Linked DNA regions of Homo sapiens. The protein of the gene in region 1 purifies or fractionates together with the protein of each later gene. This does not show direct contact. Each region holds a gene or a part of one and is shown on either strand. Other genes may lie near its edges.

The links.
Region 2: the proteins of CNTNAP3 (region 1) and CTHRC1 purify together in Homo sapiens (affinity purification with mass spectrometry; one large-scale study listed by BioGRID and IntAct). This does not show direct contact.
Region 3: the proteins of CNTNAP3 (region 1) and SLC39A6 purify together in Homo sapiens (affinity purification with mass spectrometry; one large-scale study listed by BioGRID and IntAct). This does not show direct contact.
Region 4: the proteins of CNTNAP3 (region 1) and PLXNB2 purify together in Homo sapiens (affinity purification with mass spectrometry; one large-scale study listed by BioGRID and IntAct). This does not show direct contact.
Region 5: the proteins of CNTNAP3 (region 1) and ITGB5 purify together in Homo sapiens (affinity purification with mass spectrometry; one large-scale study listed by BioGRID and IntAct). This does not show direct contact.
Region 6: the proteins of CNTNAP3 (region 1) and PLXNA1 purify together in Homo sapiens (affinity purification with mass spectrometry; one large-scale study listed by BioGRID and IntAct). This does not show direct contact.
Region 7: the proteins of CNTNAP3 (region 1) and CPNE2 purify together in Homo sapiens (affinity purification with mass spectrometry; one large-scale study listed by BioGRID and IntAct). This does not show direct contact.

What each region holds. Positions count from the first base shown.
Region 1 is NC_000009.12:39,063,890-39,068,579, reverse strand, and holds the end of CNTNAP3 (contactin-associated protein-like 3 isoform 1 precursor), read left to right. Parts: 3' UTR 1-3,870; downstream 3,871-4,690.
Region 2 is NC_000008.11:103,374,161-103,378,392, forward strand, and holds part of CTHRC1 (collagen triple helix repeat-containing protein 1 isoform 1 precursor), read left to right. Parts: intron 1-1,577; coding exon 1,578-1,799; intron 1,800-3,866; coding exon 3,867-4,083; intron 4,084-4,232. UniProt on the Homo sapiens protein: May act as a negative regulator of collagen matrix deposition.
Region 3 is NC_000018.10:36,125,809-36,130,515, reverse strand, and holds the start of SLC39A6 (zinc transporter ZIP6 isoform 1 precursor), read left to right. Parts: upstream 1-1,175; 5' UTR 1,176-1,402; intron 1,403-3,499; 5' UTR 3,500-3,508; coding exon 3,509-4,297; intron 4,298-4,707. Other genes in the region: ELP2 (elongator complex protein 2), read right to left, coding at 445-582. UniProt on the Homo sapiens protein: Zinc-influx transporter which plays a role in zinc homeostasis and in the induction of epithelial-to-mesenchymal transition (EMT).
Region 4 is NC_000022.11:50,279,967-50,284,198, reverse strand, and holds part of PLXNB2 (plexin-B2 isoform 3 precursor), read left to right. Parts: coding exon 1-67; intron 68-208; coding exon 209-366; intron 367-448; coding exon 449-597; intron 598-753; coding exon 754-862; intron 863-1,012; coding exon 1,013-1,149; coding exon of another isoform or gene 1,150-1,195; intron 1,196-1,317; coding exon 1,318-1,488; intron 1,489-1,648; coding exon of another isoform or gene 1,649-1,885; coding exon 1,886-2,015; intron 2,016-2,117; coding exon 2,118-2,345; intron 2,346-2,456; coding exon 2,457-2,633; intron 2,634-2,699; coding exon 2,700-2,839; intron 2,840-3,009; coding exon 3,010-3,110; intron 3,111-3,225; coding exon 3,226-3,455; intron 3,456-3,528; coding exon 3,529-3,710; intron 3,711-4,127; coding exon 4,128-4,194; intron 4,195-4,232.
Region 5 is NC_000003.12:124,793,154-124,797,385, forward strand, and holds part of ITGB5 (integrin beta-5 isoform a precursor), read right to left. Parts: intron 3,665-4,232; coding exon 3,235-3,664; intron 3,223-3,234; exon of another isoform or gene 768-3,222; intron 120-767; exon of another isoform or gene 1-119.
Region 6 is NC_000003.12:127,027,746-127,031,977, forward strand, and holds part of PLXNA1 (plexin-A1 precursor), read left to right. Parts: intron 1-194; coding exon 195-341; intron 342-435; coding exon 436-595; intron 596-1,247; coding exon 1,248-1,351; intron 1,352-1,694; coding exon 1,695-1,791; intron 1,792-2,128; coding exon 2,129-2,319; intron 2,320-2,497; coding exon 2,498-2,667; intron 2,668-4,232. UniProt on the Homo sapiens protein: Coreceptor for SEMA3A, SEMA3C, SEMA3F and SEMA6D. Necessary for signaling by class 3 semaphorins and subsequent remodeling of the cytoskeleton. Plays a role in axon guidance, invasive growth and cell migration.
Region 7 is NC_000016.10:57,112,532-57,116,763, forward strand, and holds part of CPNE2 (copine-2), read left to right. Parts: intron 1-756; coding exon 757-936; intron 937-2,944; coding exon 2,945-3,019; intron 3,020-4,232.

The DNA.
Region 1 (4,690 bases):
ACCTGAGGCAAGGGAAAGAAACACTCAAAAGAATTACAGCGGCATTTATCAACCTTTAAAAAATTATTATTGACCTCAAGGAATCTTTTTAAACATCTTTTCTAGTCACCTCTCTATGAATTTTTTAATTTTTATTTAATTTAATTTAATTTTATTTTATTTTTGAGACGGAGTCTTGCTCTGTCGCTCAGGCTGGAGTGCAGTGGCGCGATCCTGGCTCACTGCAAGCTCCGCCTCCAGGGTTCATGCCATTCTCCTGCCTCAGCCTCCCGAGTAGCTGGGACTACAGGCACAAGCCAACATGCCCAGCTAATTTTTTTTTTTTTTTTTTTTTTTGTATTTTTAGTGGAGGCAAGGTTTCACCGTGTTAGCCAGGATGGTCTCGATCTCTGGATCTCATGATCTGCCCACCTCAGCCTCCTAAAGCGCTGGTATCACAGGCGTAAGCCACTGCGCCCGCCCTGAAATTTTAATATCGCACATGCACTGCATATCTCTTTAGTACTATACGTATATCTGGGCTTTACACAAAAAGAATATTTTTCTTCTCTTCACTTCTCCCATCCCCCCCAAAAAAACTAATTTCTGTCGTTTTGGGGACAATATTACTCTCACTGAGAGTGCATGTTCACATACAACCATGAATAGAGGTGGTTGCCATGGGCTATACCAGAAATCCCCATAATTAATAGGGCATTAGGTAGAATATTCATAGGGGTCTTGCCTCAGTCCTGGCAAGTCCTAGACCATGTATTACTATGGCGGCCCCACTGAACAAATCTTCAAAGATTTGGAAAAAAAGATCAAACCGTTTCCAATAACTAATTGGCATCTCTGAGCAAAGTTCACATGTATTTCCAGTAACATAAAACTATCCAACACCAGGCCGGGCACAGTGGCTCATGCCTGTAATCCCAGCACTTTGGGAGGTCGAGGCAGGCAGATCACGAGGTCGGGAGATGGAGACCATCCTGCTAACAAGGTGGAAACCCCGTCTCTACTAAACATACAAAAATTAGCCGGGCGTGGTGTTGGGCGCCTGAAGTCCCAGCTACTCGGGAGGCTGGGGCAGGAGAATGGCATGAACCCGGGAGGCAGAGTTTGCAGTGGGCCGAGATTGCGCCATTGCACTCCAGCCTGGGCAACAGAGCCAGACTCCATCAAAAAAAAATCCAACACCCAACGAGGTAAAATCACAATGTCTGGTATACAATAAAAAATTACCAAGTGTGTGAAGAGGCAGAAAAATAGGACCTATAATGAGGATAAAAATCAATCTAAAATGACCCAGCACATACCCAGATGTTAGAATTACTAATGAAAAATATTATGACTATATTCCGTATTTTCAAAGATTAGGATGTGACAAGAAAAGGCTTTAATTAAACTTCGAGAGATGACAATGTTAATGTATAAGATTAAAAAATACAATGGATGTAATTAATGGCAGATGAGAGTTTTCAGAAGAAAATATTAATAAACTTGAATATATATAGCAGTAGAAAGCATCCAAAATGAAACAGAGACAGAAAAAAAACAAAGAATAATCAGAGTATCGGTGATCTGTGGGACAACTTCAGTTGCCTAATCTGTGTGTATTTGGAGTTCTCAAAGGAGAAAAGAGAGTGGATGGATAGAAAAAAATATTTTTAAAAATTAATACATAAGCATTTTCCACATTTGATGCAAACTATAAACCCACAGACCCAGCTCAACATCCCCAAGTAGGGGTGCTATTAAGAAAACCACATCACAACACATCATAAGCAAATGGATCAAAACTCAGTGTGGTAAAGAGAAAAAGACAAGTCTTACACAGAGAAGAAAAACAAGGATGATACCAGACTTCTTTTTGGAAGCAATGCAAGGGGAAGGGCAGTGGAGCAACATCTTTCATGCTTCCAGTGAAACATCTTCCAACCAAAAGCAGAAAACTCTCTCTCCTAGGTTTCTATACCCAGCAAAACCGTCTTTCAAGAAAGGATGAAACAAAGATATTTTTCAGACATAGAAAAGTTAAAAGTAATATATTATCAGCAAACCTGGACTATGAGAACAGTGTAAAAGCCTTTCAGGAAGAAGGAAAATAAAGAATAATATCTTTGTGCAGATAGAAACATGGATCCACACAAAGAAATGAAGAGCACTGGCAATAGTAACACCATAAGTAAATATACAATACCTGCCCTTATTACTTAAATATCTTTTAAAGATAATTGGCTGTTTAGAAATAATAGCAGTGTCATGTGAGTTCTGCAGCATGAGTAAAAGTAAAATATATGACAACAATAACCTAGAGTAAATGGAAATATAGTTTAGTTTGTAAGGTTCTTAGACTGTGTGTAAAGTCGTATAATGCCTATTAAAAGTTGGCTATTACAAGTTATCTTTAAGTTAAAACATCTGTATGGTGTAATCCCTAAAGCAAATGCTAGAGTAACAAAAACAGTGATAATATTACAATATTACACAATAATATTACAATGCAGCGATGAAATAGAATAAATTTTTAAATGCTTGAAAGTAGACAAAAAAGATGAGAAAGAGGACAAAGAACAAATGGGACAAATAGAAAGCAAATAGCAAGATATAAAATAAAAATCTGATAAATTTGACCTTAAGATTAACAACTCTCCTTTTAAAATACATTGTTAAGAGAATAAGAGTCAAGCTACAGACTGGGAGAAAATATTTGCAACACTTTATTTGAATGCTGTAAATTTTTTTCAGAATATAGTTCATAAAGAACTCTTAACAACTCAATAATTAGCAAAAATAAAATGAAAATAATGAATATAAGAAAAAATGACGAAAAGTGCTAGGCCAGTGGACAAAAAGCACACAAAAATGTTCAATATCGTTTTGTCATTAAGGAAATGCAAATTAAAACCACAGTGAGTTATTCTTCCCACTAAAATGGTTATGATTAAAAATATTGTCAGTACCACGTGTTGTTGAGAATATGGAGCAATTATAATTCTCATACATTATTGTTGGAATGTAAAATGCTACAACCACTTAGGAAAAATTGTTTAACATTGTTTTATATAATTAAGCATACATGAAACCTATGACCCAACAATTCCAATCCTAGATTGAAAAGAAATGAAAACTTATGCCCATTATAAGACTTACACAAGAACGTTTATAGCATCTTTACTTATAATATCCCCAAACTGTAAACTGCCTAAAAGACCTTCAACAAGAAAATGGACAAACAATTTGTGTTGTATTAATAATGAAATACTCTTCAGCTATAAAATGGACAAAACTACTGGTAACTGCAACAAACATGGCTGAATCTAAAAAACCTTGTGTTGAATGAATAAATCTAGACACTATAGGGTACATTCTGAAGTCCTAGAACAAGCGAAACTAAGATATAGCAGTAGAAATTGTATCAGTAGTTACCTGGGTTGAGGTGGGATGGGAGTTGACTGCAGAGAAACACAAGGGAAGTTTCTGGAGTGATGGAAATGTTCTATGTCTTGATTGACTATGGTTACATTGGTGTGGACATTTGTCAAAACTCTGAATTTCATATTTGGAATTTGTATATTTTGTATATAAATTATACTTCAATAAATATGTACATGTATATATATGTGTATATATAATACATTTTGATATGTCATGATGTCTATCACTTCACAGCATATTATATTTCTATCATACCATATTTACATAATGGAAAAAGATGAAAAGGATGCTGTATTTTGGGGAAATCACAAGAGATTATCACCTTTATTTATTTTTTATACAAATACATATAAATCTTTCACAGTACAATACAAATGTCAAAATGTGGTATTTTCATTGCTCTATAAATTCTTATATGTTCTATGTATGTAATAAATGTTAAAAACAGTGTTTATATGTTGTATATGTTTATTTGTTCTATGTGTTTACATGTTCACTGTTCTATAAATTCTCATATATTGTATACTATACAATCAGGTGATGAGCTGCTCAGTAAATAAGTGCTGAACACTCTGCATCCCTCATCACGTCAAGCATTTCACATCCCTTTTCCTGTAGGCTTCCACAGTAGACATTTGACTTGCCAATTACATTTTCATCCATCATTCTGGAGAAGCCTGGAGAAACAGCTAGACACAGGGGACATACTCCTATACCTTGCTCATTGTGCCTTGGAATTATACATATTGAAATATTGTAAAGATTTGCTTCATTTGTATCAACATGGCTGTGAAATTAGATGTCAACTCTACCTCAGTTCCAACTTTTAGGAGGAATCCAGATAGTTTATTAGAAAATAGAAGTGCAAAAATGTTTGCTGTTTGATTCTCAGACCATAGCCTGAGATTAGCAATATTAAAAAAAAAAATAGCAGACAGAAGAGGCCCAAGTCTCTCCCAGCTCCTGGGATGCATGGAAGCAATGGGCTGTGATGTCCTACTGAGGTAAAAGAAGTAGTGTTTGTTATAGTCCCACGAGCAGAAGCAGTAAGAACTTGAGGTAGGGTGCACCTAAAACTGAGAACAAGGGAAAGCTGAAGTAGGAAGTGTCACCAGGGAGGGACTATGGGTCCTTACTATGCGAAGAGAGAAAAGGATTTAATTAGGTCCAACAGAATATAATGCCATTTCAAAAACATTTTCTGTTAGGACAGTTTCCAGAGACTCTAAGTGGTTGTTTTTTGTGTGATGATTTTTGAGCTTGGTAGAAT
Region 2 (4,232 bases), on another chromosome or scaffold:
TAAAAAGTCATTTATCAAACCAAAACTCAAACTGGCGATGGAGACACAAATTGATTAGCAAGCATCAGTCTAATTATATAGGATTCTTCCCAGACAACTATTGGATTTTATCATCCAATCCCAGATACTGTAGTCAAAAGATAAGCTTTGAAGTTACTTTAATATCTAAGAAACTTTGTTTTTTGTTTTCATTGGGAAATATAGTTATACAGAATAATACTAGGCAACTTACACAAATAGAGGAAATGTTAGAGTAAACATTTAAATGGATTGCATTGGGTTTTGGAGTGTCTAATAAACGGCACCTTTGTTCCTAGCTGAACCAATTCAGGTGTAGACACAGGAATTAGACAGGTGGGGCACAGGATATCACCTTTACCACTGATCATACAGCATTGGCATGTATGGCTTATGTGTGCTAGGCTGGTGGGTTTGCTAATGCTCTCTTCCCCAGGTCTAAATCCTGAAAGGTCCACCCAGGGCAGTGGACACACTTACCCAGAGTTGCTGCCTTGCACTGGTCCTGGGGAACATAGGAATAATAATGGCTGACACATACAGTGTTTACTGTGTTCCAGGCATTGTTCTAAGCACATTTTATATATTATTCACTTAAATCTCATACAAACCCTATAAAGTAAGACTCTTTATTATTATCCACATTTTACAGATAAGGAAACAGGCACCAAAATGTTGAGTAATTTGCCCTATCTCACAGAGCTAATGTAAGGTGGAGCCGGGACAAAATCCAAAGAAACTGGCTCTAGAATCCATGCATTTAAATGCTACAAGATGTCCTTCTCCAAACAAACAGAAAATCATAGTCCTTACAGACAGTTTGACAGATTGTGGATGGTCCCCTATTGAGAACTAATGGTCACTTGAAACTGGGTCACTTACTGCTTCTCCTTGGGGAAGAGGGGTGGGATGAGAGGCCAGAAATGTTATCCAAGCACTGCTTCCCCCACTTAAAAACAGGGAGAAGCAGGGATTTTCATACCCAAGTTGGAGCTATTGCCAGTACAAGATAATTATTGACTCTTAAGATTTTATTTTATAATTATGTCCCTAGGAATTTATCTTAAGGAAATAATTCAAAAGAAGAAAAAGGCTGTATGGATATTTTCATTACAATAATATTCATAATAAAAAAAGTAGAAATAAACTATCCAAAAATAGTGCAATGTTTGCATAAAACTGTAAAAATCCAGGTCCCTTTGCAAGATACAGAGTTAGAAGAAAAAAGCAGAATATCAAATTATTCCCACCTTGGAATACAGCTATTTAAAATTGTGTATGCCTATAATGAGCAGAAGGGAGCAGGCAAATAATTTTGTCCTCCTCTGATGTGTGTGTGTGTGCGTGTAAAGTCTGTGCACTAAAAAATATGAAGGAAATCACAATATTTTAGAAATAATTTGAAAATGAATTCTCTGTAATAACTCATCTAGAACACGGGCATGTGGTATGAAGGGATTCTTGACTCCAAGGGCTCAAAATAAATGCATTTCTAATCATACTGAGTCTTTGACTCTTAAGTGGTGAGAGTTTTCTTTGCCTTTTCTTTCTCATTATAGTATAATGGAATGTGCTTACAAGGGCCAGCAGGAGTGCCTGGTCGAGACGGGAGCCCTGGGGCCAATGGCATTCCGGGTACACCTGGGATCCCAGGTCGGGATGGATTCAAAGGAGAAAAGGGGGAATGTCTGAGGGAAAGCTTTGAGGAGTCCTGGACACCCAACTACAAGCAGTGTTCATGGAGTTCATTGAATTATGGCATAGATCTTGGGAAAATTGCGGTAAGTTTGAATTATTTTAAAATTGAAGCAAGATTTAAGGGTTTTCATATTTTAGTGTTAATTTTTAGGTGACATTTTATTTTTTTTTAACTAAAAGACTTAAAAAAGAGAAGTAGGTAGCATGTGACTTTTAATTTAAAACTAATGAAAAAGTTTATAACATTTCAGAATTTCATAGAGATATTTCTAAGACAAATGCTTATCATTTTAACCATAGTATCTAAAATAACATACTTTTTAAAAATGCAAACAAAAGAGAGCATATGTGTCTGTGTTGGACAGTAAGCAACTTTCCAATCTTATCCTAAAGTAAATTTAAATTTAGTCTAAGAAATTCTGTCCTGGCTTCAGACATAAAGGTGGGAAAAAATTTCCAAGAAATTACCACATTGATCTGGAAGCAGAAGTCCATTGGTGTTTGTCTTTATTTAGGAAGCATGCCCAGCTTAAAACTGCTAAGCCTAAGAGAAGTGAAATGGGTTAGATGTGAGGTACTACAGTGATTATTTTAAGTTATTCTGCAACATTAAGGCTGAGTGGCAGAGAATTACTCAAAATAGCCTGTCCGGTCATGTATTTTGACTAATGTTTCAGTCACTTTGATTAGTGTTTGCTTCAAAAGTAATTGGCAAGTCCACTGGGATGGAAGAGAGTTGAAGAAGTTGATGCTATTTATAAGCCTCTTTTCTCTGTTGATGAACTCTGTACATGGTTCCATATTCACAACATATTACTTCATGATTTTACTGCTACCATCAAGCAATTACAAGAAATTTGTTTCATAAAACTCCAAGATTTTAAGATGCACTCTGTGTATAATCCCTGTTCCTTATCTCAGCTCTTTCTGCTCTATTAAGAGTTTGAGACTGTCTTGTTTTGTGATAGAATTTCCATGTAGCTTCCATAGTTATGATGACTATGACCTTTTCTGTGTTCATGTGTGTTTCTAGAAAACATTTTGTTAAAATGTTCCCTAGTTATTTAAACATCTGACATTGATAGACTGGTTGTTTATTTATAGTTGTTCATCAAAAGTTACTGAGTTCTTTCTAAAAGCTATCCTTGTGGGTTCTGAATTATTAATATGTTTTCAAGTTCCTTTTAGCAATGGTCAGGATGGGTATGGTAACCTTCTATGAGTAAAGGATAATAGGTCCATGAGCCAATAGACAGACAAATTTGCATAGACCAATGAGAAAATAAGCAAACAAGAAACCTGGGCCTTATCATTGCATCATATAGATAAAGACTAAAAACCCTGCCTATCCTTTACTCCCTCATACTGTTTGCTGTTGCTCGAAAAGAAACACGTCAAGAGTCAATACGAATGGACAGAACTAGTCTAGAATGTAAGTTCCATGAAGGTAGGGATTCTGGTTTGTTAACTGCTCTATCTGTACCATTTAGCACATAGTTGGGGCTCAGTAAATATTTTTTGAATGCAAAAAAAAGAGGAAATATATAAATTGATTTTATCAAAAGTACTGAAGGCTAGCCTTTTTTGATAAAACTGAAAGATACCCTCAATGGGGCGAAAAGTTCTGAGAAAGCTGCAATTTGATTTTCTTAGAGTTCCTATATCAAAATCTCTTACCTAGCTTGCAGAAAATCTCCCTCCCTCTATAAAAGTTAAGCTTTATTTTTGTTTATTTTAATTTTTTTGAGACAGAGTCTCACTTTTTTGCCCAGGCTAAAGTGCAGTGGCACAATTTCGGCTTACTGCAACCTCCACCTCTTGGGTTCAAGCGATTCTCACGTCTCAGCCTCCCGAGTAACTGGGATTACAGGCGTGCGCCACCACACCCAGCAAATTTTTTGTATTTTTAGTAGAGATGGGTTTCGCCATGTTGGCCAGGCTTGTCTCTAACCCCTGGCCTCAAGTAATCTGCCCCCCTCGGCCTCCCAAAATGCTGGGATTACAGGTATGAGCCACCACACCCGGCCAAGTTAAACTTTTTAAATACATTTTGGGGAAAAGGATAGTTAAGTAAAATTCACCAGTCTCAAAAGCTCTTTTTAATTAAAATAGAAAATGTTAATTAAATCCCATTTCTATGTTTGTGACAGGAGTGTACATTTACAAAGATGCGTTCAAATAGTGCTCTAAGAGTTTTGTTCAGTGGCTCACTTCGGCTAAAATGCAGAAATGCATGCTGTCAGCGTTGGTATTTCACATTCAATGGAGCTGAATGTTCAGGACCTCTTCCCATTGAAGCTATAATTTATTTGGACCAAGGAAGCCCTGAAATGAATTCAACAATTAATATTCATCGCACTTCTTCTGGTATGTAAAATTGTGACATTGCAAGATGTGCCTCAGATCTAAGTAAGATTAGTTTTGAGTCCCACTATCATGTTGGTTCACTAGCCTACTGTAAAGGGACCTCTAGCAAGTTTTCAATGCATGATTCTCCACCCTGGGTTGTACTTCTG
Region 3 (4,707 bases), on another chromosome or scaffold:
TTCCTTGAAATTCAATACAACAAAAGTTCATTAACCAAAACTGAAGGAAATACTGAAATGAGATTGCACCTGTGGGATGATGGTTTTAATCTACATATAAATTTCAATTGTTTTAAAACCCAAATTGATTAACGGTACTACAGTTCCCAAGGAAGGCTTCAGGTAAGATGCTTATCATTCGGGTTTCTGCGTGGGACTAACAGGTTACTAGCAGCTCATGGGCAGCAATGACCCTAGGATGACGCCACGCGTGAGACGGCAAAGGGTGAGGGGTGAGGAGCGAGTCCGGCAGGTCCACTGGAGACTCCGAGCCCAAACCCCGCTCCCCTGAGCCGACCCGACTCGCCTCCTAGGTCTGGGGCGGCAACTAACAGCGCGCCCGGAGCACGTCCACAGGTTCAACCCGAAAAGCACAAGGGTCGGCCGTCCAGCGACCTCTCTTACCAGGGGGTCATAGAGCACCACGGAGCAGGACGTGCCAAAGGCCAGAAGTCCTCTGGGCCCAGAGCTCCAGTTCAGGACTCCCCGCACCCGGTTTGGGCAGCAAAACACGTGAGAAGTCTCCAGCACGGGTGCCACCATGTCGCCAACTGGTCAGCCGCACAAACAAGAGACGCGCACTTCCGCCCTCGGAGCGGAACTACTAGGGTGGTTTCTCCTGAGGCATCACCCAGTCCACGTTTCGCAGCCAGCCGAGGGCCAGACGGAGGCAGCCCCGCCCCCCTGAGACTCTCCGTTCCCACCGCAGGCTGGAACCCCTGTGCAAGGCCGCCGCTTTGCTAGCTCTGCTCTTGGACCGTGGCCCCGCTCCGCGAACGAGCCAGGCCTTTGTCTCAAGAGCGAAATCCGACCCGAGTGGCTCGGGACCCTCCCGAAGGACCCGGGGCTCATGTGCCTGGGGCAGCGTCAGAAACATCTCGCTGCCCCTTACGACCCGGCTCCCAGCAGCAGCCAGGGCTGGCCCCGGGGGCGCTGGCTAGCGAGTAGGGCCTCGAGGAAATGACCCCCAACTGCTTACAATGCGCTAGGGCCGCGCCACGCCCCCGCGGCGTCGGCGAACACACGGAAAAGCGGATCCGTCTGCGGAGCCGGGTTCCGGGGTCGCACTGCGCATGCCCTGCAGTCCTGGGCGAAGGGGGCGGTGGTTCCCCGCGGCGCTGCGCGCGGCGGTAATTAGTGATTGTCTTCCAGCTTCGCGAAGGCTAGGGGCGCGGCTGCCGGGTGGCTGCGCGGCGCTGCCCCCGGACCGAGGGGCAGCCAACCCAATGAAACCACCGCGTGTTCGCGCCTGGTAGAGATTTCTCGAAGACACCAGTGGGCCCGTTCCGAGCCCTCTGGACCGCCCGTGTGGAACCAAACCTGCGCGCGTGGCCGGGCCGTGGGACAACGAGGCCGCGGAGACGTGAGTCTTTCAGGTCCGGGAGCAGGGCGGCTGGGAGGGGAGCTCCTCAGGCCAGACAGGCGTGGCGGGGTAGGGGTGGTTCTGCGGAGAACCGGATCCTGCGGACCGGGCAGGGGGGCTACAGAAAGAGGATGCTGGGGGGAGCCCGCCGCAGGCGCCCACTCACCCTAGAGAGCCGGACTTCTTAAGGTGCTCAGATGGGCTTCGGGGTGCAACGGAGGATTTTTTGAGGAAAAGATCCGTACTTTTCATCCCATATTCGAAGAAGGGACTGACGTGTTTAGAAATAAAAAGCTTTTAGAAGAGAGCTTTGTGCCCTCTTTTCCGTTTTCTGTACTCGCCTTTTTCTCTAAGGCCCTTCCCTTCTGCTTTCCTTTTTCCTCCAGCACACACCAACTTGCAGGAAAGGAGATCCTTCAACGGGTCCACGACCGCGCTCAGCATCCTCCCTGGAGAAAGGCTCGGAGCTGTCCCCTGTGCTAGTCCCCTCCCACCCCGCTCCTCGCCTCTCTCCTGGGAATGATTTCTAAATGTTTATCTTTTACCTAGTAAAAGAATTCCCGAAACTTCAAGCCCCAAAGATTCCTCTTTCAGGAGCCTCGTTCTACGCCGTACCTCCATTTCCCACTGTTCCCTGTATGATACCTCGCACTTGTGCAACACATGAGTTTAACGAGTACTTGTAATATACATTCCTTCATGTGTTTTCCTCCTTCGCCTTGCAAAATAGGTTTTACCGGTATTTTAGATAAGGTAATGAATGCGAGAGCCCTGTCCAAAGAACAGCTGACCGTGGTAGAGCTGGATAGCCCCATGCTCTTGCTTAGTTGTAAACTTGACGTCTGCGTCTTTTGCTGGAGATGTGAGTTTGACCACCATCACCTCCACCGTTGGTGCTGGACATCCTGCTGGATCTGAATTAACTGAATTCTGGCTCTGCTTAACTGAATTCTGCTTTTCAAGCTCCAACTCAATTGCTTCCTCCTCTTTGGGGCACAGGCCTTTGGTTCCAAACACTACTGTGGATGATTAACAGCCTGTGATTAAATGTTGACTGGTTTGTAGTAACACAAGGATGCTACAGTGAGTTTTTCATGAAGTTCAGTTTACTTTAAGAATTCTATGTATGGACATAATGTGTCTGATTCATTGTCAAGTCGGAAAAAAGATTCAATGTGTATTTAAAGTATACACTTATTTGAGGCTGGGCGTAGTGGTCACGCCTGTAATCCCAGCACTTTGGGAATTGGAGGTGGAGGATCTCTTGAGGCCAGGAGTTCAAGACCAACCCGGACAACATAGTGAGACCTCGTCTCTAGAAAAAAAAAAAAAAAACTTTAAAAAAAAAATTAAGTATACATGTATTTGAGTATGCATAGAAAATATCCTGAGGGATACACTGGCAAAATTGAGCACCTTTGAGGATTGTGATTGGGGAAAGGGGTCTTAAATGGGCTTGTATGTAAGGAGAGTGTATTAGTTTAAAATTTTTTAAATATGTGAATTCTGAGATTATTATTTCTATTTTTTGGTGTTTGAAGGTTATTTTATGAAATGATGGTGATGATCAAGGTAGCTAGATTTCATTTCGTTCTTTTTTTTTTTTGAGACAGGGTTTCACAATGTTGCCCAGGCTGGTCACAAACTCCTGGCCTCAGGTGATCTGCCTGCCTCAGCCTCCCAAAGTGCTGGGATTATAGGCATGAGCCACCACACCCAGCCTAGATTTAATTATGAATCATTGGCCTCAATGATTCAAATAATCGTTCAAATAAATTCTCAACTTCAGTAAGCAGTTGATGGCTGTGGCCACATGGATCTCCCTTGTCTCTGAATTACTATTGCTTTTACAGTGCTAATGGCAGTCTCTTAGCACTCAGCTCTTCTCCAGTTGTTTCATGTGTTTTAGGAATGCAAGGGTAGAGCCTAGGACTCTAGTTCTTTCCATCTTCACAGTACCTAGCGTCACACTGGTCACACCACATGATGCTCTGGCAACTTTGATTATTTGATTACACATTAATTTTCAGTATGAGGTTTCTTAATTCAATTTGTTTTAGAAGTGAGTCAAGAATTTTTTTTTCCTGTCTTTTCTAGGAAGGCGCAATGGCGAGGAAGTTATCTGTAATCTTGATCCTGACCTTTGCCCTCTCTGTCACAAATCCCCTTCATGAACTAAAAGCAGCTGCTTTCCCCCAGACCACTGAGAAAATTAGTCCGAATTGGGAATCTGGCATTAATGTTGACTTGGCAATTTCCACACGGCAATATCATCTACAACAGCTTTTCTACCGCTATGGAGAAAATAATTCTTTGTCAGTTGAAGGGTTCAGAAAATTACTTCAAAATATAGGCATAGATAAGATTAAAAGAATCCATATACACCATGACCACGACCATCACTCAGACCACGAGCATCACTCAGACCATGAGCGTCACTCAGACCATGAGCATCACTCAGAGCACGAGCATCACTCTGACCATGATCATCACTCTCACCATAATCATGCTGCTTCTGGTAAAAATAAGCGAAAAGCTCTTTGCCCAGACCATGACTCAGATAGTTCAGGTAAAGATCCTAGAAACAGCCAGGGGAAAGGAGCTCACCGACCAGAACATGCCAGTGGTAGAAGGAATGTCAAGGACAGTGTTAGTGCTAGTGAAGTGACCTCAACTGTGTACAACACTGTCTCTGAAGGAACTCACTTTCTAGAGACAATAGAGACTCCAAGACCTGGAAAACTCTTCCCCAAAGATGTAAGCAGCTCCACTCCACCCAGTGTCACATCAAAGAGCCGGGTGAGCCGGCTGGCTGGTAGGAAAACAAATGAATCTGTGAGTGAGCCCCGAAAAGGCTTTATGTATTCCAGAAACACAAATGAAAATCCTCAGGAGGTAAGATGAGTGCTGTTCATTATTTTAATATACCTGTGTGTCTGTCCTGTCTCTGCTACTCTATCTCTAGTTATGAGGAGTTTAAAGTAAAAGTAAAATGTTGAAGTTATTGAAAAGGGAATTTCCACCTTCTCAGCAAGGCACTTGCCACAAAGCATGCCTGCTATGTTGTAAACATTCCCAATTCAGAACTTAGGGAACAGTTCTTTTGGTGAGCGTAGTGCTGCCTCCTACAATTTTTTCTAATACAGAATATAAAATATGTAGAGAAAGATATCAAGGCTATCTTTAGAGAAAGTCTATAAAGGTGAACATTATTAATAAAAAATAGAAAATGAGGGGTTGAAAGCAGGAGTTAGAATCCATATTGTAGGGAAAGGTGTGACTGAAGGGGCTGAAGACTACTGAGA
Region 4 (4,232 bases), on another chromosome or scaffold:
AACGAGACGCTGCCCCTGCACCTCTACGTCAAGTCTTACGGCAAGAATATCGACAGCAAGCTCCATGGTGGGGGCCACGGGCGCAGTGGGGGGCGGGCAGGGGACGGGTGGGCACAAGGCGGTGGGTGGGGGGACAGGTGGGCGCAGTGGGGAGCAGGTCGGGGGCGGGCAGGCACGGGGTGACCACTGACGGCAGCTCTCCCCGCAGTGACCCTCTACAACTGCTCCTTTGGCCGCAGCGACTGCAGCCTGTGCCGGGCCGCTAACCCCGACTACAGGTGTGCGTGGTGCGGGGGCCAGAGCAGGTGCGTGTATGAGGCCCTGTGCAACACCACCTCCGAGTGCCCGCCGCCCGTCATCACCAGGGTGAGCCCCTCGAAGCCTGGCCTACACCTTCCCTCGTCCCTGGCATGAGCCCCTCCCTGCTCACCCGGCTCTGTGGTTTCAGATCCAGCCTGAGACGGGCCCCCTGGGTGGGGGCATCCGCATCACCATCCTGGGGTCCAATTTGGGCGTCCAAGCAGGGGACATCCAGAGGATCTCTGTGGCCGGCCGGAACTGCTCCTTTCAGCCGGAACGTTACTCCGTGTCCACCCGGTGAGTGGACGGCCCTGGTCTGGGCCCTGTCAGCTGGGTCAGTACCCACGCTGGGGTTCCGGGTGACTGGGTGGGTGGGGAGGCTGAGGGGGTGAGGGTGTCAGGGTGTGGGGTGGGTCGGGGAGTGCCTGGGCCACACTGCCTGTCGCCCGCCAGGATCGTGTGTGTGATCGAGGCTGCGGAGACGCCTTTCACGGGGGGTGTCGAGGTGGACGTCTTCGGGAAACTGGGCCGTTCGCCTCCCAATGTCCAGTTCACCTTCCAAGTAAGCACCCGGCCTCGGGGACCTGCCGAACCCGGGAGGACCGGGAGGAGGGGCTCTGCCCGCCGCCTCCCCACGACAGTTACCATCCAGCCCAGGACCGAGGGCGTCCTGTGCCCCGTCCTCACCCGAGTGCCCCTGCGGCTCTTTCAGCAGCCCAAGCCTCTCAGTGTGGAGCCGCAGCAGGGACCGCAGGCGGGCGGCACCACACTGACCATCCACGGCACCCACCTGGACACGGGCTCCCAGGAGGACGTGCGGGTGACCCTCAACGGCGTCCCGTGTAAAGTGTGGGTGTCACCGCCAGCTGCTGAGTCTGGTTGGCCCTGGCCCTGGGTATGGAGGGGGGCACTTACTGAGACCTGAGTGGCCCTGAGGGGATGGCGGGGCCAGCCTGGTCGGGCTGGGGCTGGTCCCGGGGGAGGGGTTGATGCAGACCAGCACCCTCCCTCCCCCAGGACGAAGTTTGGGGCGCAGCTCCAGTGTGTCACTGGCCCCCAGGCGACACGGGGCCAGATGCTTCTGGAGGTCTCCTACGGGGGGTCCCCCGTGCCCAACCCCGGCATCTTCTTCACCTACCGCGAAAACCCCGTACTGCGAGCCTTCGAGCCGCTACGAAGCTTTGCCAGGTGAGGCTGGTGTCCCCCCGCCCCCCTCTGCTCCCCACACCCAGCTGCCTCCTCAGTGCCCTTGGCTGACTGTGCTGAAAGGAATGTGGTGGGGCTGGTCTGTGCAGCGGGAGGCGGCCTCCGGAAAACCCCACTGCACTCCAGATCCACTTCCTCCTAGAAACCCAGATGGGCACACCAGAGGCTCCACGCTCACCAGGCCCCGTGTGCCCCCCGCCCACTTGCGGCACAGTCTCGTGCTCAGCACGTCCCACCGCGTTGCCCCTTTGCCCACCGAGACCCACACATGCACCTGGAAGCCCCGTGTGGTCAGGGCCAGGGTGGGCGGGGACGGGAGGGCGGAGGCTGCAGGGACCACCCCTGCCAGCCGAGCCCACGAAGGCACTGCCCTCCGCAGTGGTGGCCGCAGCATCAACGTCACGGGTCAGGGCTTCAGCCTGATCCAGAGGTTTGCCATGGTGGTCATCGCGGAGCCCCTGCAGTCCTGGCAGCCGCCGCGGGAGGCTGAATCCCTGCAGCCCATGACGGTCAGTCCTGGCGTGGGCTCAGCTCTGGCACCGGCCCATGGGATCGTGCCCAGGAAGGGCGGGGTCTGCGCCCGGGGGCTGACAGCTGGGACTTGCCTGCAGGTGGTGGGTACAGACTACGTGTTCCACAATGACACCAAGGTCGTCTTCCTGTCCCCGGCTGTGCCTGAGGAGCCAGAGGCCTACAACCTCACGGTGCTGATCGAGATGGACGGGCACCGTGCCCTGCTCAGAACAGAGGCCGGGGCCTTCGAGTACGTGCCTGACCCCACCTTTGAGAACTTCACAGGTGGCGTCAAGAAGCAGGTCAACAAGCTCATCCACGCCCGGGTGAGGACGGTGCAGCCCCGGGTGTCTGGGTCCTGCTCGGGTCTGGGCTGAGAGCTGGTCCACCTGTCCCTGGTTCCCTCCTCCTCACCCCGACCACTGCCGCCTCCCCAGGGCACCAATCTGAACAAGGCGATGACGCTGCAGGAGGCCGAGGCCTTCGTGGGTGCCGAGCGCTGCACCATGAAGACGCTGACGGAGACCGACCTGTACTGTGAGCCCCCGGAGGTGCAGCCCCCGCCCAAGCGGCGGCAGAAACGAGACACCACACACAACCTGCCCGAGTTCATTGTGCGTGAGCGGGGACTGGCGGGGGGTGCCCCCACGGGACCGCGCTGAACCCGGCCCCCCACACAGGTGAAGTTCGGCTCTCGCGAGTGGGTGCTGGGCCGCGTGGAGTACGACACACGGGTGAGCGACGTGCCGCTCAGCCTCATCTTGCCGCTGGTCATCGTGCCCATGGTGGTCGTCATCGCGGTGTCTGTCTACTGCTACTGGTGAGCCCGCCCCCCGGCTGTGCCAACACCCTGAGCCCTCGGCCCTCCCGCCTCGGCCCCTCTGGCCTCATCCGCCGCCCTGCACAGGCAGGCGTGTAGATCCACCTCCTCATCCGGGCAGCTGAGCGGCCAGCCCCGGCAGAACCTAGGAGGCCCGCTGTGCCTTGCAGGAGGAAGAGCCAGCAGGCCGAACGAGAGTATGAGAAGATCAAGTCCCAGCTGGAGGGCCTGGAGGAGAGCGTGCGGGACCGCTGCAAGAAGGAATTCACAGGTAGGGACCGCTTGGGGGCTGGTGCTGGGGCGCCTCCTGGGGCGGGGATGCTGTGTGTAGCGTGGGGGTCAGGGCCCCACGTGGCCAGGGACGTCTCACGCCAGCCTCCCCCCAGACCTGATGATCGAGATGGAGGACCAGACCAACGACGTGCACGAGGCCGGCATCCCCGTGCTGGACTACAAGACCTACACCGACCGCGTCTTCTTCCTGCCCTCCAAGGACGGCGACAAGGACGTGATGATCACCGGCAAGCTGGACATCCCTGAGCCGCGGCGGCCGGTGGTGGAGCAGGCCCTCTACCAGTTCTCCAACCTGCTGAACAGCAAGTCTTTCCTCATCAATGTGAGCCAGGCGTCGGGCGGGCGGGAGGGCACACAGGTGGCGCCGGGCAGGCTTTGACCGCCGGCCCCTACAGTTCATCCACACCCTGGAGAACCAGCGGGAGTTCTCGGCCCGCGCCAAGGTCTACTTCGCGTCCCTGCTGACGGTGGCGCTGCACGGGAAACTGGAGTACTACACGGACATCATGCACACGCTCTTCCTGGAGCTCCTGGAGCAGTACGTGGTGGCCAAGAACCCCAAGCTGATGCTGCGCAGGTGCACATGGGCGGGGCCACGAGCGGGGCCACGGGCGGGGCGGCCGCAGGGGCTCTGGGGCTGGTGGCGGGTGGCACAGCGGCCTGTTGGGCCCCCAGGAGCCGGCAGGTGCCAGCCAGCGCTGGTGGTGGGGGGCGGTCTAGGGGTGGTGTCCCCGGCCACAAACTCAAAGCCGGACTCTAGCCCTTCCTGTCCAGCGGTTTCAGCTGGTCACAGTGTCAGCCCTCTGCAGAACAGAAGGAAGGTGGCACACTTCCCACAAGGGCTGGAGCTGCCACCAGGTAGTCCTCGCTGCAGGCCACACCCAGGCTGGACAGGGGCGAGGCTGGCGCAAGGGTGGCCGGGTGCTTGGAGGAGTCAGTTGGGCCTCAGGAATACTACGGGGTCACTCGGTACAAGGCCTCCCTGCACCCCCAGGTCTGAGACTGTGGTGGAGAGGATGCTGTCCAACTGGATGTCCATCTGCCTGTACCAGTACCTCAAGGTGGGTTCCACCCCAGCCTGGCTGGGGCTTGAGGGATG
Region 5 (4,232 bases), on another chromosome or scaffold:
GAAAAGCCAAAGTCCAAGACAACCAAGGTCACAGCCTGATGAACTGTGGAGATGAAACGTGCACACAGCATCTGACTCAAACGCCCTTGCTCCCAGGCTGCATGGACACACGCAGGCTTCTAGGGTGAAGACATACCAGAGGGTTATTTCAGGATCCTGAAGGGGAAGGAGGGATGGTTCTGTCACGTTTGCTAATATCTCTTTAAAAGAAAAACTGCTAAAAAGCCTGCCAGGCTGCTTAGAGCTTTTATTATGGCTACTAAGAGGAATGGAAACTCCATTCCACCACCCTGGAATTTTTTAGGCAAAGCCTGGGGACTGTCTGGGGGAAGGCGGGGCCCTCCTGCACATGGGGAACCAGGTGTGGCCCCCCCAGAGGGGTGTGGCACTGACTCATAGAGGAGCCAGCATTGGGTGTGTTTTCCTTTTGTGCCAGGCAAAATACTGGGTGCTTCACACACATCTCTTATTCCTCATAACAACTCTATGCCCAAGTCACACTAGCAGATATGGTATGATGGGACTTAGGCCCAGGCCTCCTGCTATGGAGCCCAAACTTTTTCTACTAACCAGACAGAACCATCTAGCTAACACCAACCTATCATCACTCTGCTGAGGAAAGCGTTGATCCCTGTTGCATGCTTGGCATGTTGAATCCTGATTTTTCCACCTACTTTACTCTGCAATGACACTGCTAAGTCCTGCACTCTCCAGGGCAACTCCAGTTTTAGACATGCTGGTCCCACGACGCCCATGGGTGTACTCACGCTTGTGTCACGGCAAGGTCCGCTCCAGGAAGCTTCCCTTGTTAACCCACGTCTGTGCAACCCTGTGTGGCAGTACAATTCCTCCTCCCATAGGACGGAGTATCTGCACGTTCCTGGTTTGCTTCAGATGCACCTTGTGCTTTCTTTCCCAGCTGATCCCTTAGTTCCTTTCAAATCCACCCATCCCAATTGGAAGACCATTCTTAAGGAGGGAGCCCTGGAAACCACAGAATACATGATGTGTAGAAGAAACCACAGCCCTGCCTAAAACTGTTTTACTTACTACCTTTACAGGTGGCATGGTGTTAGATAAACTTTGAGATACAATTTTGAAGCATTTAATCAGAACGCAATACCAGAGTGGGAACTGCCAACTTGTCATTTAACTGGAATCAGTGTAAACTCCTGTGTTTAGATTCAGAAAATTAAGGGCTCCAACACAACACACTAAAAAAGTACCTCTCCTTCTGAACCACAGTTCTAAAAAATAAAATAAATTAAAAGCCTCAAACTTTTGGTAGTGAAGTTAAAAACCAGCTCAAGAGTATACTGTGACTGTTTAACAGAACGAAAAGGTGGGCTGGGCGCAGTGGCTCACACCTGTAATCCCAGCACATTGGGAGGCTGAGGTGGGTGGATCACCTGAGGTCAGGACTTCGAGACCAGCCTGGCCAACATGGGGAAACCCCATATCTATTTAAAAAAAAAAAAATTTGCCAGGCGTGGTGGTGGGTGCTTGTAATCCCAGCCAGTCAGGAGGCTGAGACAGGAGAATCACTTGAACCCAGGAGGCACAGGTTGCAGTGAGCTGAGATTGTGCCACTGCACTCCAGCCTAGGCAACAGAGCGAGACTTCATCTCAAAAAAAAAAAGAAACAAGAAAGAAAGAGAGAGAGAGAGGAAGGGAGAAGGGAGGAGAAGGAGGAGGAGAAGGAGAAGAAGAAGAAGAAAATAAAAAAAGGTGAATGTATTGTCAGGGTGCATCCATGTAAGCAGAATGTCCAAATCACAGGAAACGCATGCTTCACTGAACCCTGGACCAAGCCCTCATCATCCAGCATGACAAGTAACGCACTTGATTATGTGAAGCATGCTTCACAAATGATAGCACCCTCGGACAAGGAAGAGACTTGGGGTGTCTAGCCTAGATCAGAAGAGAGAACAGAGAAACATAAAGCAGCTTTTAGATGTTTGACAGGTTGTCACGTGGAAGGGGGACTCTAGAATGTTAACCATTGGGAGGAAGTTATTGAGAAACAAGTTTCTCTTCAGTATAAAGAGGAATTCTGGGCCGGGCACAGTGGCTCACGTCTATAATCCCAGTACTTTGGGAGGCTGTGGATGGATCACTTGAGATCACGAGTTCAAGACCAGCCTGGCCAACATGGTGAAACCCCGTCTCTACTAAAAATACAAAAATTAGCCGAGTGTGGTGGCGGGCGCCTATAATCCCAGCTACTCGGGAGTCTGAGGCAGGAGAATTGCTTGAACCTGGGAGGCAGAGGTTGCAGTGAGTCGAGATCCTGCCATTGCACTCCAGCCTGGGCAACAGAGTGAGACTCCATCTCAGAAAAAAAAAAAAGAGGAATTCTGGCAGGAAAAATAAGAGCCCCCAGAGATGTCCACATCCTAATCCCTGGAACCTGTGACTGTGTGGCCTTACGTGGTGAAAGGGACTGTGCAGATGTGAGTAAGCTGAGGACCTGGGGATGGGGAGACTTTCCAGGGTTCGACTGAGGGTCCCTTGTAACCACAAGGGTCTGTAGGAGAGGGAGAAGGATTTGACAACAGAAGCAGAGGTCAGAGTCAGAGAGATCTGAGGATGTTACTCTGCTGGTTTTGAAAATGGAAGAAGGAGCTGCAAGCCAAAGAATACAGGTGGCCTCTAGGAACTGGAAAAGGCCGGGACACAGATTCTCCCCTGGAGCTTCTAGGAGGTATGCAGCCCTGCTGGCACCTTGATTCTAGCCAAATAAGATCCATTTCAGACTTCTGGCCTCCAGAACTGTAATGGATTAAATGTGTATTATTTTAAGCCAACAGGTTTGTGGTGAGTTATGGGAGCAGCAATAAGATATGAGTTCATTGGCTAAGGGACAGATGGCCACTGCCAGCCCCAGTGAGTTCCCCGTCCCAGGAGGCAATCAAGAAGAGGCTGAACATCTCTACCTGTCAGGAATGCTGTGCAGGCCAGTCCTGCATGAATTGGGAAGTAAGGTGGATGACCCACGCAGGCCCCTCGAATTCTGAGAGTCCACAATTTATGGCAATACCTTCTGCTTTCGTATTCTGCACACAGATCCCCACCTCCTGCCTACGGGTAGCAAGGCTTGCCCACTGTCTTCTCCAAGGAGAGCCATGGTAGTGACACTTTCTACCACCACTGAGTAAAAGGCAGGCTTTGGGAGGGTGTCCTAACGGCATCTTGGCCTGGCTCAGAGCTAAAGTGCTTGCTGGGGACACTTACCTGAGCAGAGGACTCCCTTGTTCCTGGCACAGGAGAAGTTGTCGCACTCACAGAAAGGCCCATAGATCTTGCCAAACTCGCTCTCGAAGCAGGAGCACTGGTTGCAGCTGCAGTCCCCACGCCCGCTGCACAGTGGCTTGCCCTCTGCCTCCCGGCACAGGTTCTGGTACACGCTCTGGTTCTCCCCATCCTGGCACTCGCACCTGGTGCCCAGGTAGCCGGGGCTGCACTCACACAGGCCGCAGACATAGGTCCCGCTCCCGTTGCACCTGGCGCTGTTGGGTTCCAGCCCCACGCTGCAGCCGCACGTGCAGTTGTAGGTGACCCCCACCTCCAGGCTGTCCCGGAATCCCACCGGCCGCAGGGCAAACACATGCTCCGTGTGTCTGCTGGGACAGCTTCGGGCCTCCAATGATACTTCAAAAGATGCCTGGGCAGAAGGAAGAGAAGGGATATCATGGCTGCGGCAAGCCAGGGTCTCCCATTCACCCAGGGGCAGGGCCCTTGATGAAGAGCAGCTGCGAACTCCAGCCCTCTCCACGCACTCAGGTAGAACCACCAAGATGGCCGGAGTAGGAAGAGACCTCAGAACCAGCAAGCTCCCATGCTTCATGGAGAAGAGAATGCACAGGTGAGCTCACATTTGACAGGTGAATTCTTTAACATTCATTATCTCTTTGCATCCCCATGACCCTGAGGAAATGGGCCCCTGCGGAAAGCTATAGGGCTTCCTTGAGTTCACACAGTTCTTATTCTCCCTTTCTTTTCTCTTCTGTCCTATCCTCTTCCCAGCCCCGCTGCAGATGCCTCTTCTCTGCTCACTTAAAAAGTCATTTGGTGGAAAAACATTTCCTGGGCGCTGCCTCTGTGCCAGGCACAATGGCACTCTCACAGGGTGCCGGGTGAAGGGCACCCACCTGGCCCGCCATAGAGAGGGCTCTGTGCCTGCTGGCAAAGGGCTCAGCTGACTCCAGAGCTTGCTCTCCAGACACCCCCGA
Region 6 (4,232 bases), on another chromosome or scaffold:
TGTTTTGTTTCCTGATTTTCTTGCAGTCTCTGCTGGGCTTTGGGACTAAGGCTGTACTTGCCTCCCAAAGAGTTGGGAAGTGCTGCTCATTTCTCCTTGCCAGGAACACCATGGCTGGCACTCGACGGGTGGAGGGGCAGGTTGGGGGTAGGCCCGGGGGTCCTGGCTGCAGCCTCATGCCGCCACCCCCGCAGGAGTGCGCTGGGGAGCCGCTGTTCATGCTGTACTGCGCCATCAAGCAGCAGATGGAGAAGGGCCCCATTGACGCCATCACGGGTGAGGCACGCTACTCCCTGAGTGAGGACAAGCTCATCCGGCAGCAGATTGACTACAAGACACTGGTGAGCGTGGCTGCCCTCTGTCCTGGGTGCCCTGGTGCCCCCCACCCCCCAGTTGTGGGGCTGACGCTGCCCCCTTGCTCCACCCCGCCCGCAGACCCTGAACTGTGTGAACCCTGAGAATGAGAATGCACCTGAGGTGCCGGTGAAGGGGCTGGACTGTGACACGGTCACCCAGGCCAAGGAGAAGCTGCTGGACGCTGCCTACAAGGGCGTGCCCTACTCCCAGCGGCCCAAGGCCGCGGACATGGACCTGGGTGAGCGGGCGGGGCCACGGCTGCCCGGGGTGTGTGCTGGAGCAGAGGGGCAGGGCCATGGCCTAGTACTGAGCTTGGCGGGGAAGGCCAGGCCAGTCCTCCACACCAGGCTGGTCTGGAGGGCAGTGGAATGGCGAGTGGGCTGTCCAGTCCCAGGTTGGGTATAGAGGGTGGCTGCCCTGCTCTGGGCAGAGACTCTGGGAGGTGGTGGGTTCCAGTGCACTCTGGGAGGCAGTGGGCTCTTGGAGCCCTGAGGGGGATACTCAGGCTCATGAGAGGGGCAGGTGGAGCCATTGAGGGCCAGAGGGGATGGGACGGGTTTGGGGTGGGGCCCGGAGTCCTGCTGCAGATGTGACTGGAGAGGCTGGGTCCCCACAGAAGCCTCGGTGCCAGGCTGAGGAGTTGGGGCCCTAAGGCTTGCGGAAGGCAGGGCAGACCCCCTTAGGCTGGGGCTGCTGTGGCAGATTGGGAGGGCTGTGGCACATTGCAGGGGACTATGGCAGGTTAAGTGTGCTGCAGCAGGGGCGGAGGTATGTCCCTGCCCTGTGCTGGTGCTGAGAGCTGCAGGCAGGCCCCGTCCCACTACACTGCTGTGATGGAGGAGGGAAAGAGGGCCCCAGCGGCCCCACCCTCCAGCTCCCTCCTCCCCCAGAGTGGCGCCAGGGCCGCATGGCGCGCATCATCCTGCAGGACGAGGACGTCACCACCAAGATTGACAACGATTGGAAGAGGCTGAACACACTGGCTCACTACCAGGTGGCTCCCGGCCCTCCGACCCTAGCACAGGCCTCCCTCCCCTTGGGGCTTCCACAGCGCAGCCACCAATGTTTGCAGCATGTGGGCTGGACAGCAGCTGGATCTGTCAGGGAGAGGAGGGGAGGTGGTCACTTATGTGTGTGGACCGTCCCAGGACTCGAGCTGGGCTTGTGGGATTGCCTAGCATCCCTGGGCTGTCCTGATATAGAGTTCCAGACTGAGTGAGGTGGCTGCCTCCAGGCACAGCACTAGGGTGTCACCGGGGTCCCCAGCCGGGGAGTGGGAGCCTGGTGGTGCAGGGGCACCCTGGTGGGTCACAGGGTCCCTGGCCCTCTGCCCACAGGTGACAGACGGGTCCTCGGTGGCACTGGTGCCCAAGCAGACGTCCGCCTACAACATCTCCAACTCCTCCACCTTCACCAAGTCCCTCAGCAGATACGGTGAGGGGCCAGGCAGCGGGCGAGAGGGCAGCGCATGGGTCCCTGGCCTGGGCAGGACGTCCCCCGGGCTCCCACGCTGCAGCAGCCGGACGGGAGGACCCAGGGGCAGGTGTCAAGCCTGTCACTCGCACTCTTGGCCTTACCCTCCAGCTCTGGAGGCTGCGCCTCCTCGCGACTGTGTGTCCGTACACAATTATGCCACCTCTGTGGTGTCATCGGCTGCCCCAAAATCCCACATGGGTGGGGGTGCCATCCCCAGCTTTCAGATGGGGAAACAGGCTCGGGCGGGGGGTGCGGGGTGCCAGCCAACGCGGGCGCTGACAGCCTGGTGCTGCAGAGAGCATGCTGCGCACGGCCAGCAGCCCCGACAGCCTGCGCTCGCGCACGCCCATGATCACGCCCGACCTGGAGAGCGGCACCAAGCTGTGGCACCTGGTGAAGAACCACGACCACCTGGACCAGCGTGAGGGTGACCGCGGCAGCAAGATGGTCTCGGAGATCTACTTGACACGGCTACTGGCCACCAAGGTGGGCCTGGCTGGCAGATGGGGGCAGGGGACGCTGGGCCAACTGAGCTCAGAGAAAGTGCCAAGCCCAGAGCAAGGGCCTCACCCCCATGCTCCCATGGCCACTTGCCTAGTCACCCAGGAGGTGTAGGCAGCCAGGCAGCGCCCTGGGGCTCAGTGTCCCTGCCTGCCCCCCGCAGGGCACACTGCAGAAGTTTGTGGACGACCTGTTTGAGACCATCTTCAGCACGGCACACCGGGGCTCAGCCCTGCCGCTGGCCATCAAGTACATGTTCGACTTCCTGGATGAGCAGGCCGACAAGCACCAGATCCACGATGCTGACGTGCGCCACACCTGGAAGAGCAACTGGTAATGCAGGGCAGGGGGAGGAGGGGCATCCCCCAGGGCCAGGCCAGATGTGTTCCCAGGGCCCTCGCCCTGTTCTGATCCGGAGCCCCCACTTGGGGCTCCCTGGCGTGGGGACACAACCCAGCAGGGGCATGGCGGGCCAGTCCTGTGCTAACTGGCCTTCCCTATCTGCCTGTGCCCCTTGACCCACGGCTCGCCCTCTGCTCCAGCCGCTGAGCCCCTCCCACTGCTGCAGGAACTGTGTGCAGGTGTGAGTGGCTCTGGGTGTGCACAGCTGTGCGGACATGAGTGTGGGCTGCAGCGTGAGAAACAGGGCACAGTGGACCAGCCCCAAGCCGGCTGGTTGCAGTGATGAGGGCAACAGGGACTGCAGGTACTCCTGGTAGTCTTTAGTGCGAGGAATTTACAGCCTCCCCATTGCAGTGTGGGGCCAGGCCAGAGCCTGCTTACTGAGGCGCAGAGGCCGAGCCACTTGCCACGGTCTCACGGAGCAGCTGGAGTACGGAGCAGGGCCTGCCCAGCCTGCACCGTGCACAGCTACACCAATGTGAGCTGGGGCTCTATGAGGCTGGGTTTTGTTATGAAGAGGCACCCAGCCTCTGAGTGGCCTCCCTCCAGAGTATCTGCCTCCCTGGCCAGCCAGTCCCTTGCTTTCCTCCGGCCTGGCCCACCCCTGGGACAGTGACCTGCTTCTTCCCTGGTCATGGACTGCCCAACTCAGCAATGTTGGCTTCCTCTCTGCCACACAGGCAGGCCAGCCCTTGGCCTCACTCCTTACTCAGGACCCCCAAGCTCTGGTCTGTGGCCCCCTGCTCCGGTTGGCACACTGTAGCCACACCCTAGCCCCTGGAGCGGGTCCCTGCTGTGTGTGTGGCCCCCACCCCAGCAGACAACCCCACCATTGCCTGCTACAGGGGAGCCCCTCTCTGTGCACCAGGCCCCTCTACCTGCATGGCCGAGGGCTTCTGGGGTAGGACTGCTCCCCCACACCTGGGGTCAGGTGGATGCCCTTGCCTGTATGGCTGGACCCTGCTTCACCAGGAAGTGCCCCTCCTCACCGTGCATCCTGCTGGGGTCTCCCCCCAGTTCTGTGCACACTCTCCACTGTCTTAGCTCCCCTCTCTCCTGGACTGTCCCTGCCACTTCTGCTGGCTCCCGGGCCAGCAGCCACCCCCGACTTGGTCTTGTCCATCCCATGTGTTGCTTCCCAAACCTGGGATGCAGCCACCCCAACCTGTCCCAGCTCCGCCCACTGCTCGCGGAGTCTAGGATTTAAATGAAGTGTCACGAAGCCCCTCTCCTGGGCCATGCTGATTGGGCACAGCGGGAGGTGGGGCCTCCAGGGACGCAGTGTCTCCAGGTCAGCATGTTCTTGGAGAATGTTCTGTCACAGTGGAACATTCTAGACCCGTGCTGTCCAGGGTGGTGGCTCCTGAGCCTTTGAAATGGCACTGGTGTGGCTGAGTGTCTGGGCTCTTCACTTCATTTAAGTTAAGCAGCCACGTGTGGCCAGTGCTGCCAGGCAGCCCAGCTAATGGCAGTCCCTGAGGTGGTGTTTGGGGCAC
Region 7 (4,232 bases), on another chromosome or scaffold:
GAGGAAAAGTCAACACAGCCTGGGCCCCAAAATAGACTGTCACCCAGACTCCGCGGTTTGGGGCCTCAGCATCCAGAGGCCAGGAGGCGGGTTTCCTGTCCCAGTGCCACCACTGACCCACAGTACCAGGCCCTGTCCTCAGCCAGGCTTTGGTATCCACAGTAGGTGGGGTGTTGGGCTGCACAGTGTCAGGATTCTATACAAGATACAAATATCTCCCCGCGCTCCCGTGGGGAGTCCCTGACCCCACCTCCCCCGAAGAATCCTCCCTGCTTTCTGTTTCCTCTCTCAGTTTCCATGTAAAACATGGTTTGAAAAAGGGTTTTCCCAAAATAAAAAGTGAAAACCGCAAGTAGTCAAATCCTTTCCCTTTACAGAGGTGGAAACGGAGGCCCAGATGGGGAAAGGGCCTTGTCCTCCATCTCTTACCCAGGCAGGGGCAGGGCCTGAGCTCTTACCCTGGCACCTGGGTAGGGAGCCAGGGCCAAAGAATTAAGAGTGTGGGTAGCAGAGTCAGACCTCGGTTTCAAATCTCGGCCCTGCTCCACAAGCTGTCCAGCCCTGGGGAAGTCACTTAACCTCTCTGTGCTTCAGTGTCCTTGTCTGTGAGCTGGGGATAGTGAGTCACTGACGATGACCACAAGAGCCTGGCACAGAGTAGGCATTGTACAAGTTAGCAGAATGATTTCCAGCAGCCTGCGAGGTCTTGGACCAGCTGCCTTGACTCTGACTTCCATTTTCCTGCCCCTCTGCTAGTACGACAGGACAGAAACCGCGATCAACAACCTCAACCCCGCCTTCTCCAAGAAGTTCGTGCTTGACTACCACTTCGAGGAGGTACAGAAGCTCAAGTTCGCGCTCTTTGACCAGGACAAGTCCAGTATGCGGCTGGACGAGCATGACTTCCTGGGCCAGTTCTCCTGCAGCCTGGGCACGGTGAGCTGGGCCCTCCTGGGTGGGAGCAGGGGCCCAAAGACCGGGCAACCCCTCAAAAAGTCTCTTCTCGTGCTGTCTTTCCCTAGCCCCATCTTCCTGGGTGGGTCCCAAAGTGCAGATGCAGAGTGGGGAACAGTCTTGGCGGGTTCAAGGCCGGGCTGAAGAGCTCCCATCTGGAGAGGCAGCCAAACAGAATGCCTCTCAGGATCTGGGGCCCCAGGTGGCCAGGGATTCCGATTGTTAGATATAATCAGGTGTGGTCTTGACCTCTGGGGGTAGGAGCATCTGACCAGCAACCAAGACACCCACAGTAGTCCCGCTTTGTGGCAGACTCACTGTGTGACCTTGAGAAACTTCCTTTCCCTCTCTGGGCCACACTTCCCCATCCATCTCAGTCCTTGGTAAGCTCCTGGAGGCCGGGAGCAAGCGGGGCTAGGCGCCCCTGACACAAGTCTCAATCATTCCTTATGGCTGTATGCCCTTGGATAAGCTCCCATCCCCCTCTGGGCCTCAGTTTCCCCACATTTTCCTTGGGGATTATGATGACTGCTCTGCCCAGCCTACATGGTTGATAAGGGAATGAAATGGAAAATGCTTTGAGGGGTCCTAGTGGAGACTGAAATGCCCGGGGCCTTCCAGGAGATGGTGACCATGCAGAAAGCAAGGGACTGCCATGGTTGTGATGTCTACTTTTTGCGTAAGAAGCAGGGTACAGTAGTCAGGGTCCCTACCCTGTGGTATAACTGAGAAGAGAGCTTAAGGGCTTGTGGACAGGGCAGGGAACTGACAAGGGATGGGGAAACCAGTCCAGGGCTTGGCCCCAGAGGAAAGCTGACCACCTTCACCTGGAAGGAAGGCAGGGTGAGGAAGTGGCATTGCCAGGGCCTGGTAAGACCTGTGGCCCATAGAGGGAGGCCTCTGGACTGCAACTGAGGCAGAAGACAGAGTAATGGAGAAGCTCCCATCAAACGGGGGCCCCCACCTCTCACGCCACCTGCTCTCCCGTCTCCTGCCCATCCCCCCAACTGGCTGAACCTCTGAAAGCCAGAGGGCAAAAGAGCCAGGTGGCACAGTCCCCAGGGCACAGAGCAGGTGTGTGGATCTGCGGAGAAGAACTAGCCCCACAGGAGCAGGACTAGATCATACTGATGTGTGCTCCCCGCTGCACAGGACGACGCTCGCACTGCACCCAGGAAGCACGAACCATGCTGGCCCCTGAGTGCAGTGGGCAGACACAGGTGGGAGGGTGACTTTGCAATGTGGCCCACTTTTCCTCTCTATGTTGTTTTGATTATTGCACCCTGTGTAAGTGTATTACCTATTGAAACCAATAAAAATAGAAAGAATTGGCCGGGCTCTATAGCTCATGCCTGTAATCCCAGCACTTTGGGAGGCCAAGGCGGGAAGATCGCTTGAGCCTGGAGTTCGAGACCAGCCTGAGCAACATAATGAGCCCTTGTCTCTACCAAAAAAAAAAAAAAAAAAAAAAAAAAGCCAGGCGTGGTGATGCATGCCTGTAGTCCCAGCTACCCAGGAGGCTGAGGTGGGAGGATCGCTTGAGCCCAGGAGGTTGAGGCTGCAGTGAGCCGTGATCGAGACCTGTCTCAAAAGGAAAATACATAGAATCTGAGCTTGACTCTGTCCATCAGAGATCATATCCTGAGGCAGGTGGGGTCTGTGGAATGCCTCTGGAGGAGGGAGTTAGGGGGCTAACCTCCCACAGTTGTCTCCAAAATGCCTTTTCCTAGGGGCAAACCAGGCAGTGGGAGTCCAACTGCAGCGGGAGACCTCAGGCGGGTCTCTTACCCTCTCTGGGCCTCAGGCTCCTCACTGCCCAGATTGGCTGCTGTCCACCTCCCAGGGTGATGATGATGCTCAGGCGGGTCACCAGCCAGCCAGGGCGGGGTGCAGCCCTGCCAAGAGGATTTTTCCGGTGCCGGTGGAGGATTTTTCCTTCCCGGGCTTCCCCCGCTTCCTCACTGAGCGCCCTTTCTCCTCTCTCCCCTAGATCGTCTCCAGCAAGAAGATCACTAGGCCTCTGCTGCTGCTGAATGACAAGCCTGCGGGGAAGGGCTTGATTACGGTACCAGTCCCCTCCCGGCTCTCCGCACCCCCTCCATCCCCACCCCACACCCTCCCCCATCAATGGGCCGCTTCCCTGGCAGATAATCACCAGCTTTGTTTGGAGTAAAAAGGCCCAACTTACAACTTAGCAACAGGTCTCTTAGCAACCGGCTGCTGGCTCCACAAATGATGCAGTGGGGGCTGACAAGCTGGGGAGGCCTCCAGAGCCCTGCCAGCAGCCCCCTCCCTGCACTGGCCCCTGCCTGCCCTCCCCTGGGGGTCGTTCAGAAGTGCCCTGCCCATCAGTGCCCTGCTTGTGGCTGCGACGCGCAATGATTCCTGCAATGCGCAACGACTCCCGCGATGCGCAGTAATTCCGCTGGAGATGCACAGGCCCTTCGCCCGGATGAGCTCCTTGGTCTTCAAAGACTCCCAGAAGCCAGGGCCACCCCTGAGACCCAGAGAGGAAGTTCCCTGGGGCAGCTGAGCTAGCGAGATCGTCCCCTGGTTGTCTGGCTGGCTTCTGAGCCCACGCGATGCCTGGGAAGCCGGCCAGGCTGGAGGGAGAAGCCATGCCTTTGTGTGTTCCCGTGTGTTACTCCCCTGTCCTGGAACCTCACATGGCTCCCCACTGCCTGACCAACCCTTCGGTTCAAGGCTGTGAAGGACCCCTCAGACCCTGCCTGGCTCTCCTGCCTTGGTGTTTTTTTAATCTCCTTCACTTAAATGCCCTGCGTTCAAAGCAAACTGAATTCTTAGCATATCCTGAACATACCTCAGGCTCTTACTCTGTTCCTGCCCCCACGGATCACCACCTCCCAAACAACCTCCCCCAACCTCTTGGTTCCTAACTGGCCCATCTAAATGCCTTCCCAGGCCAGGTGCATGGCTTGCACCTGTAGCACTACTCCTTGGAAGGCTAAGGCAGGAGGATCCCTTAAGGCCAGGAGTTTGAGGCTGCAGTGGGTTATGATCATGCTACTGCCCTCCAGCCTGGGCAAGAGAGTGAAACCCCATCTCTGAATGAATGAATGAATGAATGCCTTCACAAGGCAGCTTCCACCTAGAAGCCATCTCAGACAGACCCCACTCACCCGGGTATGCCATCACCCCAGCATTTCTGGCAGTTCCACTCTAGGCCTCCATCCCGTCCCCTGGGAAATGGGGGTGATAATAGGACCTACCCTATAGGGTTGTTGAGCAAGTCCCAGTGGGAGGACGGCAGGGGAGAA